3 separate regions of the Homo sapiens genome follow, and all the other regions are linked to region 1. Evidence: fine-mapped expression QTL. A gene starts in region 1. Each other region holds a variant in brackets. All regions are shown on one strand. Distances are from middle to middle.

Evidence for each region. PIP is the estimated chance that this variant, and not a neighbour inherited with it, causes the effect. A credible set is the group of variants that fine-mapping cannot tell apart.
Region 2: its variant is the best candidate, but not a certain one, in a credible set for the expression of NCS1 in whole blood (TOPMed, PIP 0.57).
Region 3: its variant is the best candidate, but not a certain one, in a credible set for the expression of NCS1 in tibial nerve (GTEx, PIP 0.61).

The regions. Positions count from the first base shown.
Region 1 is chr9:130,170,778-130,174,985 of GRCh38, reverse strand. It overlaps NCS1 (neuronal calcium sensor 1), which reads right to left and starts at 2,582. Exons shown (of 8, transcript NM_014286.4): 1 at 2,259-2,582. The coding sequence starts at 2,322. RefSeq lists enhancers at 308-1,218, 2,680-3,468 and a silencer at 2,516-2,605.
Region 2 is chr9:130,084,527-130,088,734 of GRCh38, reverse strand. GPR107 (G protein-coupled receptor 107) reads right to left here. Exons shown (of 18, transcript NM_020960.5): 7 at 2,259-2,315. Among named protein-coding and RNA genes, the nearest start is that of GPR107, 33 kb to the right of the region's middle. The variant G/A (reference allele first, on the strand shown) is at 1,772.
Region 3 is chr9:130,198,785-130,202,992 of GRCh38, reverse strand. It overlaps NCS1 (neuronal calcium sensor 1), which reads right to left. Exons shown (of 8, transcript NM_014286.4): 2 at 2,011-2,035. Among named protein-coding and RNA genes, the nearest start is that of NCS1, 28 kb to the right of the region's middle. The variant A/G (reference allele first, on the strand shown) is at 2,456.

The DNA.
Region 1 (4,208 bases):
CCAGCCCAGCACCACAAGGGCCAGTTCCTAACAAAGCTTTGTTGACTCAACTTCTCTTAAAGTTGACAGATCTGCCCGGAGGAGGGGGCCGGACAGGACTATCACCCCAGGCCCTTCCCATTTAGAATCCACCATCATGGGCTTCTAGCAAAAGCCAGAAAAAGACACCCAGCAGAGCTTTTTTTTTTTTTTTTTGGAGACAGAGTTTCCCTCTTGGAGCAATCTCACCTCACCGCAACCTCCGCCTCCCAGGTTCAAGCGATTCTCCTGCCTCAGCCTCCCGAGTAGCTGGGATTACAGGCATGTGCCACCATGCCCAGCTAATTTTGTATTTTTAGTAGAGATGGGGGTTTCTCCACGTTGGTCAGGCTGGTCCACCCGCCTCGGCCTCCCAAAGTGCTGGGATTACAGGCGTGAGCCACTGTGCCTGGCCCAGAAGAGCTCTTGGCACGAGCTCTGAAGTCTCTCACTAGCCTTGGAGCAGGACAGACCGGAGTTCAAGTCCTGGCACTGCCTGGTCACTAGCTGTGGGATCATGGGAATGCCACTTTGCCCCTCTGAGCCTTAGTTTCCCCATCTGTAAATGGAGATCGTAGCAGCACCCAGCCTGGTAGAGCAGTTGTGGCAGAGTCGAGGTGCTAATGATGCCAAGAGCTTGGCACGTGACATGCTCGATGAGCAGGAAACCTGGCTTCACTCCCCTGTCCCACCATGATGGAGGCATCCCGTGCAGCCCATGCCCACCACTCCTGATGGAGCCCACGGTGTCCTCACCCTCCCCCGGCACAGGGACCCAGGAAGTCCACCTGCTGGCGGCTGTGGGCCACATCTGGACTTAGCTTGAAGGAGTCCCCAGCGAATCTCACAAAACAGCAGCCAGACTGGAATGGGCCACCCACCTGCCCACCTTGGAGAGAGGGTGAGAACAGCCCCTGTGCCCAGGGGCTTCACCCCTTCCAGGTAGCAGCTCTTGGGATGTGAGCTCCATGCTGCAGGATTCCACAGGAGAAGGGCCAGCACCTCGCAGCAGACTAGCACCCGCTCAGGAAAGCCCCCTTTGTTCCAAGCATGAGGGGTGAGGGGCATGGAGCTGAAGCGTGGGCTTGGACAGACCTGCAGACGTGCCCAGAAGGCCGATGGAGTGGGGGGAAGCGGGGAGCAGAGGTTGTGCAATGCACCACCAGGAGCTGCCTCCCCAGCCTCCATCAACACATGGGGCTGGCGGTCAAGCTGCTGCCTCCAGGGGTGGTGCAGAGGGCCTGGGCCCACGCAGCTGCCCGGGGATGGGTTCTGAATTCCAACCCAAGCCCAGAACCACTGTCCCCTTCCAAGTCAAACACCCAGGCAGAGGTCCTTCCAGACCCCGATGCTGAAGCCTTCCCTCTGGCAATCCCCTGGGTGGTCTGGACCCATTACCATTAACCCCTGGTATGCCAGGGCACCTCCGGAGAGGCTGCAGGGAAGGGGGAAGCCTGGTATGGAGAAACTAGGACTGCAAGGGGACTGCAGAGTTGTGAAGTTAGGCAAGTGGAGGGAGACACACTGAGGCTGATCTGGAGACGCCCAGAAAGGACAGGCCATCCTCCTCCGGGCAGCCCGCGACAGCTAATGATCACACGCGGCCCAGATGACCCGGGCTGTAGAAACCCACTTCCCGGTGTGGCAGACAGAGATGGGGCCAGGGAGAATCCAGCCTGTAAGTGCTGCAACCCACAGGGTGCCGGGGACCCTTCACCGCCGTCACCGCACGACGAGCGCTGTGCCAAGTCTCGCCACCCCCCCCCCCACACGAACGGGGCCAGGGAGGGGGCGACAGGCCAATCTCGCAGCAGCGGCGGCGGCGGCATCGTGATGCATGAATCACCAGCCCCGCGCGCTCGTGCCAGTCGGCTCCGCGCAGCCGGGCGCCCCCTCCCGGGACCACCGCCCCACCCTGGCAACAGCCCCTGCCCGTTGGGACAGCTCTGCGGAGAGGGGGCCGCCAGGGGGCTGGGGCTGCCCCTCCGGACCTAGGGGTGGCGCCGCGCACGCCGACCGGCGCGCACTCCCCGGGCTGGGGGTGCCAGAACAATGGGGCCGGGCGGGGGGCAGGGGCGCGGCCCGGGAACCTCCGAGGGGTCCACATTGGAGGCCGGGCGGGGAGGACGGAGCGGAGGCGGCAGCGCGGAGCGGGTAGCGCGCGGGTCCGGGGGGCGGGGGCGGGGGCGGTGGGTGTGGGGGTGACCGCGGGGCGCGGGCTGGGGGCTGGGAGCACTCACAGTAGGTCTTCCTGGTCAGCTCCTCCACAACTTCGGGCTTCAACTTGCTGTTGGATTTCCCCATCCTCGGCGGCCGCGGCCCCCGCCCCCCCGGGCCGGACCCGGTTGGGGCGCCCAGCAGGAGCGGCTGGGCCGGGCGGGCCGGGCCGGGGCCGCGCCTTTGTCTGCGGCGCCCGCGCTGCGCTGCGCGGCTGTCGGCGCCGGGGCGCCCGGGGCGTGGGGCGGCCGCTGGGCAGGCCCGGGCGGTCCGGGCGCCGCGGCGCGGGGCTGCCTGGGCTGGGCGCCGGCGCCGGCGCGGTGTGGCCGCGGTCGTCCCTGGTTACTGGGCTCCGCGGCACATGCTCGCTGCTGCCTCCCGCCTGCCGCCGCCCCTGCGCTCCCCGCCTCCCGCCTCCCCCCTCCCGCCCGCACCCGCGCGCCAGGGGTGGACCCGGAGCCGCCACTCAGCGCCCGGCGCCACCTCCCGCCCCGCACCCGCCTGGCCGCGGCCTCCGCCAGCTGGACCCCGGCCTCGCCAGCCAGCCGGAGGGGCGTCCCCTCGGCTCAACGCGGCCCCAGGGCGGGGCAGCCACCCCCGCCACCCCCTCCCCGAATCCAGCCCTGGCGCTCCGGCCCCCGCCGCGGCGGGGAGGGCCCGGAAGATCGGATGTGAATGAGGCCAGGTCCCGGCCCGGAGACATTCATTCATTCGACACGGATTCATGGGGTGCCGGGGACACGGCGGCCCACGGGACAGGAGTGCCCCAGCCCTCGCAGGGCGGGCAGGGGGCTGTGCGGGATGCGGCAGGTAGCGGTGGGAGCACCTACTCTCGGCCTGGGGGCAGGAGACCTCCAAACCCAGGGTCAGGAAGGGAGGTGGATGGAGAAGCGTTCTGGCCCAGGCAACCTGGAGAGGCGGGGAGGCCTGCATGCCCGAGGGAGAGTTCCCCGGCTTGCGGGCTTGCGCACGGCTGCAGGCACAGGGGACCTGGGAGAAGGGCAGGGCCCACGGGGCAGGCCAGGAGAGGCCCCTCGCCGAGGAGCTGGGCCCCTGCCCACCAGCGCCCATGAAAGGACTTCAGCAGAGAGTGATGGGTCAGAGCTGCTGGAGTGACAGGTCAGAGCTGCTCAGAGCTGTTTCTCTGAGCCGAGGCTGGGGTGACAGGCTCCACCTGAATGGACAGAGGCCAGTGGATTCGCGTAGGGGGGTGTGGTTCAGGTGGTAGGTCCAGCATGGCCTTCCCGGTCCACCTCATCCAACATATCATCATATCTTGAGAACTCTCCTATCCTTTTCGGCTTTAGTTTCTCTCCTTCACATCCATCACAAACGTCACCTATGTTTTCTGCATCCTGTTTGTCTCTTCCATGGGAGAACACCCTCCCAGAGGGCAGAGGCATCTCCATAACCCAGAAGGCCGCCTGAGGTGTTACCCAGCAAATCTCTGTGAATGAGCGAAGGACGGAGGAAAGAATGACACCCGGTGCTGGGGCCCTGGGGTAGGGGAGAGAGCGGGGAGGATGAGGCAGCCCTCCCCGGGGCTAGCAGGGATGAGGCAGGAGTGGGGTCTCTTTCTCCCTTCTTTCCACAGTGTTCTAACCTCGGAGGGTCCAGAAAGCTCAGAGGAACCCTGAGCAGGGCCGAGTGCCTTCCAGCTCCCAAATATCTCTCCTGCCTCTAAGCATACTCCATCCACTCCTGCTTTCCCCTGAAGCCCCTGCCCAGGCTGAGCCCCAGGCCCCAGGAAGTCTTCAGATGGGGATGGACTTGCTGGCTTGGGGAGCTCATTCTGCAGAGGAGGTGGGCCCAGTTGGAGGGATCTGGTGTAGACCTGGGAGCAGAATGTCCCAACCTTGAGGACCAACTCAGAGTGGACAGCAGTGAGGGGCCCACAGTGGGGGGCTAACAGTTGACCAGACTGTGCTGAGCATCCTGCCTGGGAGGAGGGAGAGCCAGCACGGGAACCAGGG
Region 2 (4,208 bases), 86 kb after region 1:
CCCCTGCTTAGGGCAGGTTACATTACCTCTCTGAGCACAGTTTCTCATTGGTAAAAGAGAAAAAATAACAATACCGACTTCACAGAGTTGTTTAGAGGATTAACTGAGATAATGACATAGAAGCACTTAGCACAATGCCTGGTATTGGTTCATTAGTCTCTATAAATATAGGCCCAAGGCCAAGATCAGGAGTTTCATATACATCAATAATAAGAGACAGAAAACCCCTGCCCTTAAGGTATCTTCTGTAGAGGGGGAGACAGGCAATAAACATAACTAAGTACAGTATACAGCATGTTGGAAGTGATAATACTAAGGAAAGACAGAGCACAATGAGGGAAATAGGAGTGAGCTACAAACAAGAGAAGCTTTGTTGAGAAGGTGACATTTCAGCAAAGACTTACGGAATTCTGAGAGACAGCATTCCTGCCTGTGGGAACAGCGAGAGCAGAGCCTAAAGCCTGATCTGTCCGAGAAAAAGCAAGGCGGCTTGTGTGGGAGAGCAGAGTGTGAACAACAGGAGCTGAGATCAGAGAGACAACAGGGGCTAGACCACATGGGCCTTGCAGACCAGTGGGAAGACCTGGGCTTTACTCCAAGACAGATGGAAAGCTGTTGGAGGGTTCTGAGCAAATGAGCACCCTGCAAGTTCTCAATAACCGTTAGCTATTAATAAGGATGGCGACGAAAATGATGGTTACTAAGCTTAAAGAACATACAAACATTGTTGAACAGGCAAAATGATCCATGGAAAAAGAAATCAGAACAGTGCTTATGGGGATAGAGGGGCTTTCGCAGAAGATGGAAACACAGAAATATTGAGACAGTGAATTACATGGGTATATATGCATTTGTCAGTACTGAACAAACCGTATACTTAAGACACGACCTGTGCATTTCACTGTAGGCTTTTTTTTTTTTTTTTTTTTGAGACAGGGTCTCACTCTGTCACCCAGGCTGCAGTGCAGTGGCATGATCGAGGTTCACTGTGTGAACCTTGACCCCCCAGGCTCAAGTAATCCTCCTGCCTCAGCCTCCCTAGTAGCTGGGACTAGAGGCACATGCCATCACACCTGGCTACTTTTTGTAATTTTTTTTAAGAGATGAAGTTTCACCACATTTCCCAGGATAGTCTTGAACTCCTGGGCTCAAGTGATCCTCCCACCTTAGCCTCCCTAGTAGCTGGGACTGTAAGCATCTACCACCATGCCTGGCTAATTTTTGTATTTTTTGTAGAGATGTTTCACCATGTTGCCCAGGCTGGTCTCAAAACTCCTGGGCTCAAGCAATCCGCCTACCTCAGCCTTCCAAAGTGCTGGGATAACAGGCGTGAGCCACCACGCCCTGCCATTTTTTATTTTTAGATGATTAAACAGTGAGGTTCAGAAAGTAAGTGAGACCAGGCAAGGTGGCTCACATCTGTAATCTCGGCACTTTGGGAGGCCCAGGTAAGAGGACTGCTTGATCCCAGGAGTTCAAGACCAGCCTGGGCAACAGAGCAAGACCTCATCTCTACAAAAAATTTAAAAATTAGCCAGGTATGGTGGTCTATGCCTGTAGTCTCAACTACTTGGGAGGCTGAGGCAGGAGGATCACTTGAGCCTAGGAGGTTGAGGCTGCAGTGAGCCGTGATTATACCATTGCACTCCAGCCTGGGCAACAGAGTGAGACCTTGTCTCAAAAACAAAACAAAAAGAAATGAAGTGAGGTGTCCAATACACCCAGCTAGTAAGTGGGTTCTGAGGCCCAGTCCAGTATCTTGTTCCCATAC[G/A]TATGCTATTATGCTGCCCCTAAACACTCATGGGCAATTAATAACTCTGACAGCTAAGCAGGTCACTCAAAGCCTCTGAGTCTAGGTGAAATCATCTCTAAAATTACAACATCACCGTAAATCATCATCAATGGTCCTTTCAGAATGGGGTACTATGCTTCTGGCACACTTTGAATGGGAGGTAGCATGGGATTGGGGCAAAGGGGTCATGGGAACAGCCAGGCAGGACTGGGTTGGAAACTGTACCGTGTCACCTACACTAGATAGTCACAAAGTTATTCACTCTCAGAGACTTCTGATTTGATAAGTAGATGGGTAACAATATCCACCTTGTGGGCTTGTTATAAGGAGAGCTACTGCATTTAAGTGACTGATACAGGGCATACCTAAGTTGTTATTCCTAAATTCAAAATTCCTCTAAAAAAAAATTACCCTTTTACATGGTAGAGAGAAATTCTAGGAGGCTTTACACAAAGAGCATACATACCTGAAATGACACTGCCCCACCATTATTATGAACAGAAAAGGATTTCTCTCCCATGGCCTAAAAAGACATAATAGTATGTTTTAGGATGACACCGGCATAGAAGCATGCTAATTAAAAGTAATTTATTAAACAAAACAAAACATGTTTCTTAAACTCTAAATTTGCTGACCTTCAAAAAAGCTCTCTGAAAATAAAACCAACTATCCTTTCGAGATGGCTGAAATCTGCTTTCACAGAGAATGGTAGTTGTTCTTCACCTGTCTCTTCTGCCTCTGCACTAACCCCTACCTCCACCCCCTGCCTTGAATCTTTCGGCTAGACAGCTTGTCTACCCTTGAAGCTTCAGTCAGACTAAGGGTGCTGACCCAGGCCATGCCCTGTTACATCCCCTGAATTCCACTCCTGACATCAAATGACCAAAATATTGGCCAGGCACAGTGGCTCACGCCTGTAATCCCAACATATTGGGAGGCCAAGGTGGGCAGATCACTTGAGGTCAGGAGTTCAAGACCAGCCTGGCCAACAAGGTGAAACCCCATCTCTACTAAAAATACAAAAATCAGCCAGGCGTGGTGGTGCGTGTCTATAATCCCAGCTACTCCGGAGGCTGAGGCAGGAGAACTGCTTGAACCTGGGAGGTGGAGGTTGAGATCGTGCCACTGCACTCCAGCCTGGGTGGTAGAGCAAGACTGCGTTCCCCCCGGCAAAAAAAAAAAAAAAAATCAAAATATTGCCATTTATACAGTAAAACTGAGCAATGAAAAGAAATGATACATGCAACAATGTGGATGAACTCAAAGTAATTATGCTGAATATAAGACAGAAAAGAGTGCTGCATAATTCAGTTATATGAAGTTCTATAAAACTAATCTATACCCCAGTGACAGATCAGTGATTGCTTGGGGACAGGGGGCTTACAAAAAGGCAGAAGAAATTTTTGGGGTGATGGATATTTCACTACCTTGATTGATAAGTCAAAGTTATCAGATTGCTGCTTTACATATCTACAGTTTATTTTAGGTCAATTATACTTCAACAAAGCTGTTAAGACAAAACATCACCATTTAGATGTCCCCCTCATGGAGAAATCAAGATATCGCCAACCAAAACTTTCCCAGTTTTTCCACTTCTGCTATTTCTACGACCCACTCCTCTGCTCCTCTCTTTCCCTCCCATGACCCTAACTGGCTTCCCAGTCGTTTACCATCCAAGGCTCTGCTCTAGTCCAGATCCTCATCACCCGAAACCTGTATTCTCACAACTGTGTCCTTCCTGGTCCTTCTAACAACCCTTTCTCCTTCTCCAAGGCTACCCTTCACGTCACTTTCAGAATTATGATCTTTAATAAACAGTCTTTCCCAATCAGGAACTCAGGATGACTTCCCGTAGCCTGCTCATCAATTCCTCTATTGCTTGGCCCTATATTATCTAAGACCTCTCTCTGCTCCCAAATATGTGTCTTTTACTTCAAACGAGCCAGTGCTCAGCATTTGTCATCATCCAGTCTTTGCGTATGGCATTCTTCCTCCCCTCCCTTGTCTTTCTCTTCCCTGAACAAACTCCAGACTCAGCCCCGGCGACAGCTCCTTCCAGAGGGCTTTTCTGATGGTTTGGCATCTTCCTTCCCTAACTACCTGATCCTACATCATGTAAGTGCTGTGCAACTTAGAAATCAATTTTCTTTTCCTTTTTTTTTTTTTTGAGACAGGGTCTCACTCTGTCACCCAGGCTAGAGTGAAGTGGCACAATCATAGCTCACTGTAGCCTTAGCCTCCCAGGCTCAGGTGATCCTTCCACCTCAGCCTCCAGAACAGCTGCGACCACAGGCGCATACCACCATGCCCGCTAATTTTCTATTTTTTGTAGAGATAAGGTTTCGCCATGTAGCCCAGGCTGGTCTTGAACTCCTGGGCTCAATTAATCCACCCACCTCAGCCTCCCACAGTGCTG
Region 3 (4,208 bases), 28 kb before region 1:
TCCCAACCCTGCCACCTCCCAACTGGACTTTCTCTGAACCTCAGTTTCCTCATCTGCCATGTGGAATGATGAGCTCTGTTAACCCCTAGTACTGCTCCCAGAAGTCAATGGCAGGCCACGTGCAGTGGCTCACTCCTGTAATCCCAGCACTTTGGGAGGCCGAGGTGGGTGGATCACTTGAGGTCAGGAGCTCGAGACCAGCCTGGCCAAGATGGTGAAACCCCGTCTCTACTAAAAATATAAAAATTAGTGGGGCATGGTGGCACACACCTGTAGTCCCAGCTACTCGGGAGGCAGAGACAAGAGAATCGCTTGACTCTGGGAGGCGGAGGTTGCAGTGAGCTGAGATCATGCCACTGCACTCTAGCCTGGGTGGCAGAGCGAGAGACTCCAACTCAAAAAAAAAAAAAAAACATGGATTTGAAGCACCAAGGACGATGCCTGTTGGGGGCCAAGCACCCACTGTGGCCAGGCCCTAGGGACACAACATGGACAAGGCCAAGCTAGCCAGCCCTCAGAGTGCCGACAGGATGCAGAGAGGGACAAAATGCTTACCTGCTGCCCAGTAAGTCATCGGCTGTCCCAGGGAGGCACAGGGCAGTGGGAACTCTGACAGAGGCCTGGGGGGTTTCAGGGGGTGGGGGGGAGGGGCGAGGAGGTAACAGCCCAGCAGGCAGAGGGAGCAGCCTGGGCAAACATCAGGAAGCCCCGGAGACAAAGGTGAGTTCAAGGAACAAACAGCAGTTCAGGCTGGCCAGAGGGTAAAGGGCAAAGGCCAACAGGCAGAGGACGCCAGACTGCAGGGGTCAACAGGGCCAGACTGAACCAGGCCTCGTAAGCACATAACCATGTCAAGGGTGAGGACTTCACCCTGAGGTCTGGGGAGGGTGGCAGACGCCTGGCATGGTCAGGTTTTTGTTCAGCAAAGACCCCTCTGGCTGGCGTGTGTGAAGGCAGGGAGAACATGTACGGATGGGGAATCTAGGGAGGTTTCATGGTGGAGGCGACTTGGGCTGAGCCTTGGGAGGGGCAGAGTTCAGATGGCCCAGGAAGGAAGGCGGGCATTCCAGGAAGCAGAGCCACATGGGTGAAGATCTAGAAGGAGGGTGTTTCTAGGGCACTCACCTGGGGAAGTGCAGAAGTGGAAAGTGAGGGCGGAAACTCAATCCCAGGATGGGGCACCTCCCAGCAAGGGCTCAGCAGAGCCAGGCGGGCCAGCATAGCCCTGCCCCATCTGCAGCTTGGACTTGAGGCAGGGAGGTGTAGGGAGTGGCCCTGGAGGCTCCTGGGGGGTGCCCGGCCCTGCCAGACTTGACTGGAAAATCTCCAAGCTCATTGCCTCATGTCCCTACGTGCCACCCCTACAGCTCAGCCACCTTACATGGTGAGCCTCCTGTCTGCTCCACATTCCACAAAGACGGACAATACACCGCCCTCCTCCCCCAGGCCCAGCCCTGGCACTGCTCATCCATTACAGGCCCCACTTATCCCTCACTGCCGCTTTTCCATTTGCTCCATGACGTACGGCCTCGGAATCCTTATCACGGCCCTCCAGGCAGCTACGACAGATTGAATAGAGCTGGCATCCAAGAGCAAACCCATTTGCCATCCCTGATCCAATCGAATCGATCATTCTATAGAAGGGGTGACGGAGCCCCAGCGAGGGGAAAGGACCTCTCAAGGTCATAGAAGGACTTTCTTATCCAAACCCTTCTCTTTGGTGAACAGGGCCTGGAATCAACCCTTCAGGCCTTGGTGGTCCCTAAAGATGCAACTCAAAGCAAGGACCACCAACAAACACCCCAGCGCCACCCCCAACCCAGTTCCACTGAAACCACGTCAGTCCCGCAAGGACAAAGGCCACTGAACAAAGGCTGTCTGGACCCCACGCTCAGGGGCCCCTCCACATGCCCCCATCCTGAGCAGCTGGACTGCTGTCCCCATCAGCCCACAGCCCACAAAGCCCACAGCCGCAGCCCCTCTACGGTTTGAGAAAAAGCAGCTACTCACCACTGCTGGACCTCCTTCTCGGTAACTGCAAGAGAAAGCAGAAAAGTAGGCTTTTAGCTCAGGGAAGGTGTCCCGGGAGATGGGCAGACATTCGCTGGGGGGCCTCCCCTCCAGCCCTCCCCTCCCCACGGCCATGTCCCCGGGCAACGGCCTGCTCTGGATGAGAAAATGCTCCCTTGGTGAGCAGTCCTAGCCAGGGGCTCTGTACCCACCACCCCAGCAGGGGACACTGGCCCCACCCCTTCCCGGTGCCCAAGTGCTACCTGCCACTGCCACTGCCGCTGCTGGGAGAGCCCCCAGGAACGCCCTGTGGCACTCAAGGGTTTGCTTCTCCCACAGCCCTTGCTCCCAGGCCAACATCTAAGACTTACTCGTTGCCATCTCTCAATCCCTGGGGACGGGATGTCAGGGAAGGCCCTGGCTTCCCCAGGCACTCGGCTGCCCC[A/G]CCTATGTGGGGGGGTGGGGGGAGCTAGGCTGAAAAGGGGCAGCTCTCAGCAGAAGGGTGGACCACCCTCCCTGTCAGCCTGTCCCTGCAGCCCCTCTCTGTGGTCAGCCCGGGCTCTTTCACTGGCAAGACATGAACAGAGCCGTGAAGCAAAAGCTGAAAGAGGCTACAGAGAGCGGCTGAGCCTGGAGCCAAGCCCACATACCCATTCTTTACTGAGCCATGAAACAAACAAAAATGCTTTTTCTGAAAAGTACAGAATCGTTTCAAGTTGGAACCAAATCAATGTTCTCTCTAAAGTCACCGAACAAGAACACCAAACCACCACCAAGGCCACCCTTGCTCCCTGCCTGTGTGAGCGCGGGACGGCTCCTCCTGCACTCCCTGCCTTGGGCGCCTCATCCATAAAGTGGGCATCATATTATCAGCACCTGCCACACAGACCTGTTGTGGGGACTCACTCATAAAGGCATGGAAGCTACTGGATCCCTGGGGATGTCAGACACCTGGAAAGGCCAGGCCTGGCGTCAAAGAATGGAATTTTCCAAGAGAAAGTTTTGGCAAAGGGTACGGCGTAGGGCCCTCAAATGTGCTCAATACTGGTTTGTGGAATGAATGAATGAATGAATGAATGAATGAACACATGAACAGACAGGAAAGGGGTGTCAGGTGGAGGTCAGATGAGTAAAGGAACTAGAATCTATTCCCAGGGAAGTGGGAAGGAAGCCCAAAGAGGTGTCTCTGAATTGTTTGTGCCTGACCAGACTTGAGGAAGCCACTTTTCAAAAACCACTCAAAGCAAGCTCGCAACAGCTGCCAAATACCAAGAGCCTGCCGCAAGCCCGAATCTGCGCCCAGGGCGGGCCTCTGTGCTTTAGCTCAACGGCTCTTATGACAGCATGGAGGGAGGATGGCACAACTCTGCCCCAGCTCCAAATGTGGAAACTGAGGCACAAAGAGATCAGGAAGTGGCAAGGCAAGGGCCTGACCTTAGGTCTGTGGCTCAGAACCAGGCAGCCAGATTCCTGGGCAGGCTAGATGCCTCCATCCCCGTGCTGGTCAGCACTCTCCTCCCACAAGCCCAAATCAGAGATGGAGGAAGAGACCTGTCTGCAAGCAGGCCTCAGATAAAAAGAGAGGAGGCAGGTCAGGCACGGTGGCTCACGCCTGTAATCCCAGCACTTTGGGAGGCCGAGGCAGGCAGATCACAAGGTCAGGAGATCGAGACCATCCTGGTTAAAGCGGTGAAACCCCATCTCTACTAAAAATACAAAAAATTAGCCAGGCATGGTGGCACGCTCCTGTAGTCCCAGCTACTCTAGAGGCTGAGGCAGGAGAATCGCTTGAACCCGGGAGGCGGAGGTTGCAGTGAGCCAAGATCACACCATTGCACTCCAGCCTGGGTGACAGAGTGAGGCTGTGTCTCAAAAAAAAAAAAAGAGAAAGAGAGAAAGAGAAGGCAACAGCGGGAGATGCCAGTTACCCAGAAACACCGGGCCTGGAGTCAAAGAAAGCAATTTTCTGAGATAAAGTTTTGGCAAAGGGTATGGGGCAGGAACGGGTTCAGGATTCGGCATGGGGGTGGAGAGGGAAGGTGTCCTTGGTCTGATCCAGGCTGGCTGCCTGTGATGGCAGCTGTGATGGCAGCTGGGGCTGTGGGGCGGATGCTGAAAGCCCAAACCTGGAGACACAGGCGACCCATCACAGTACCGCCAGGAGCTCAGGGCCACAGGTGCTAAAGCCAGACCAGACC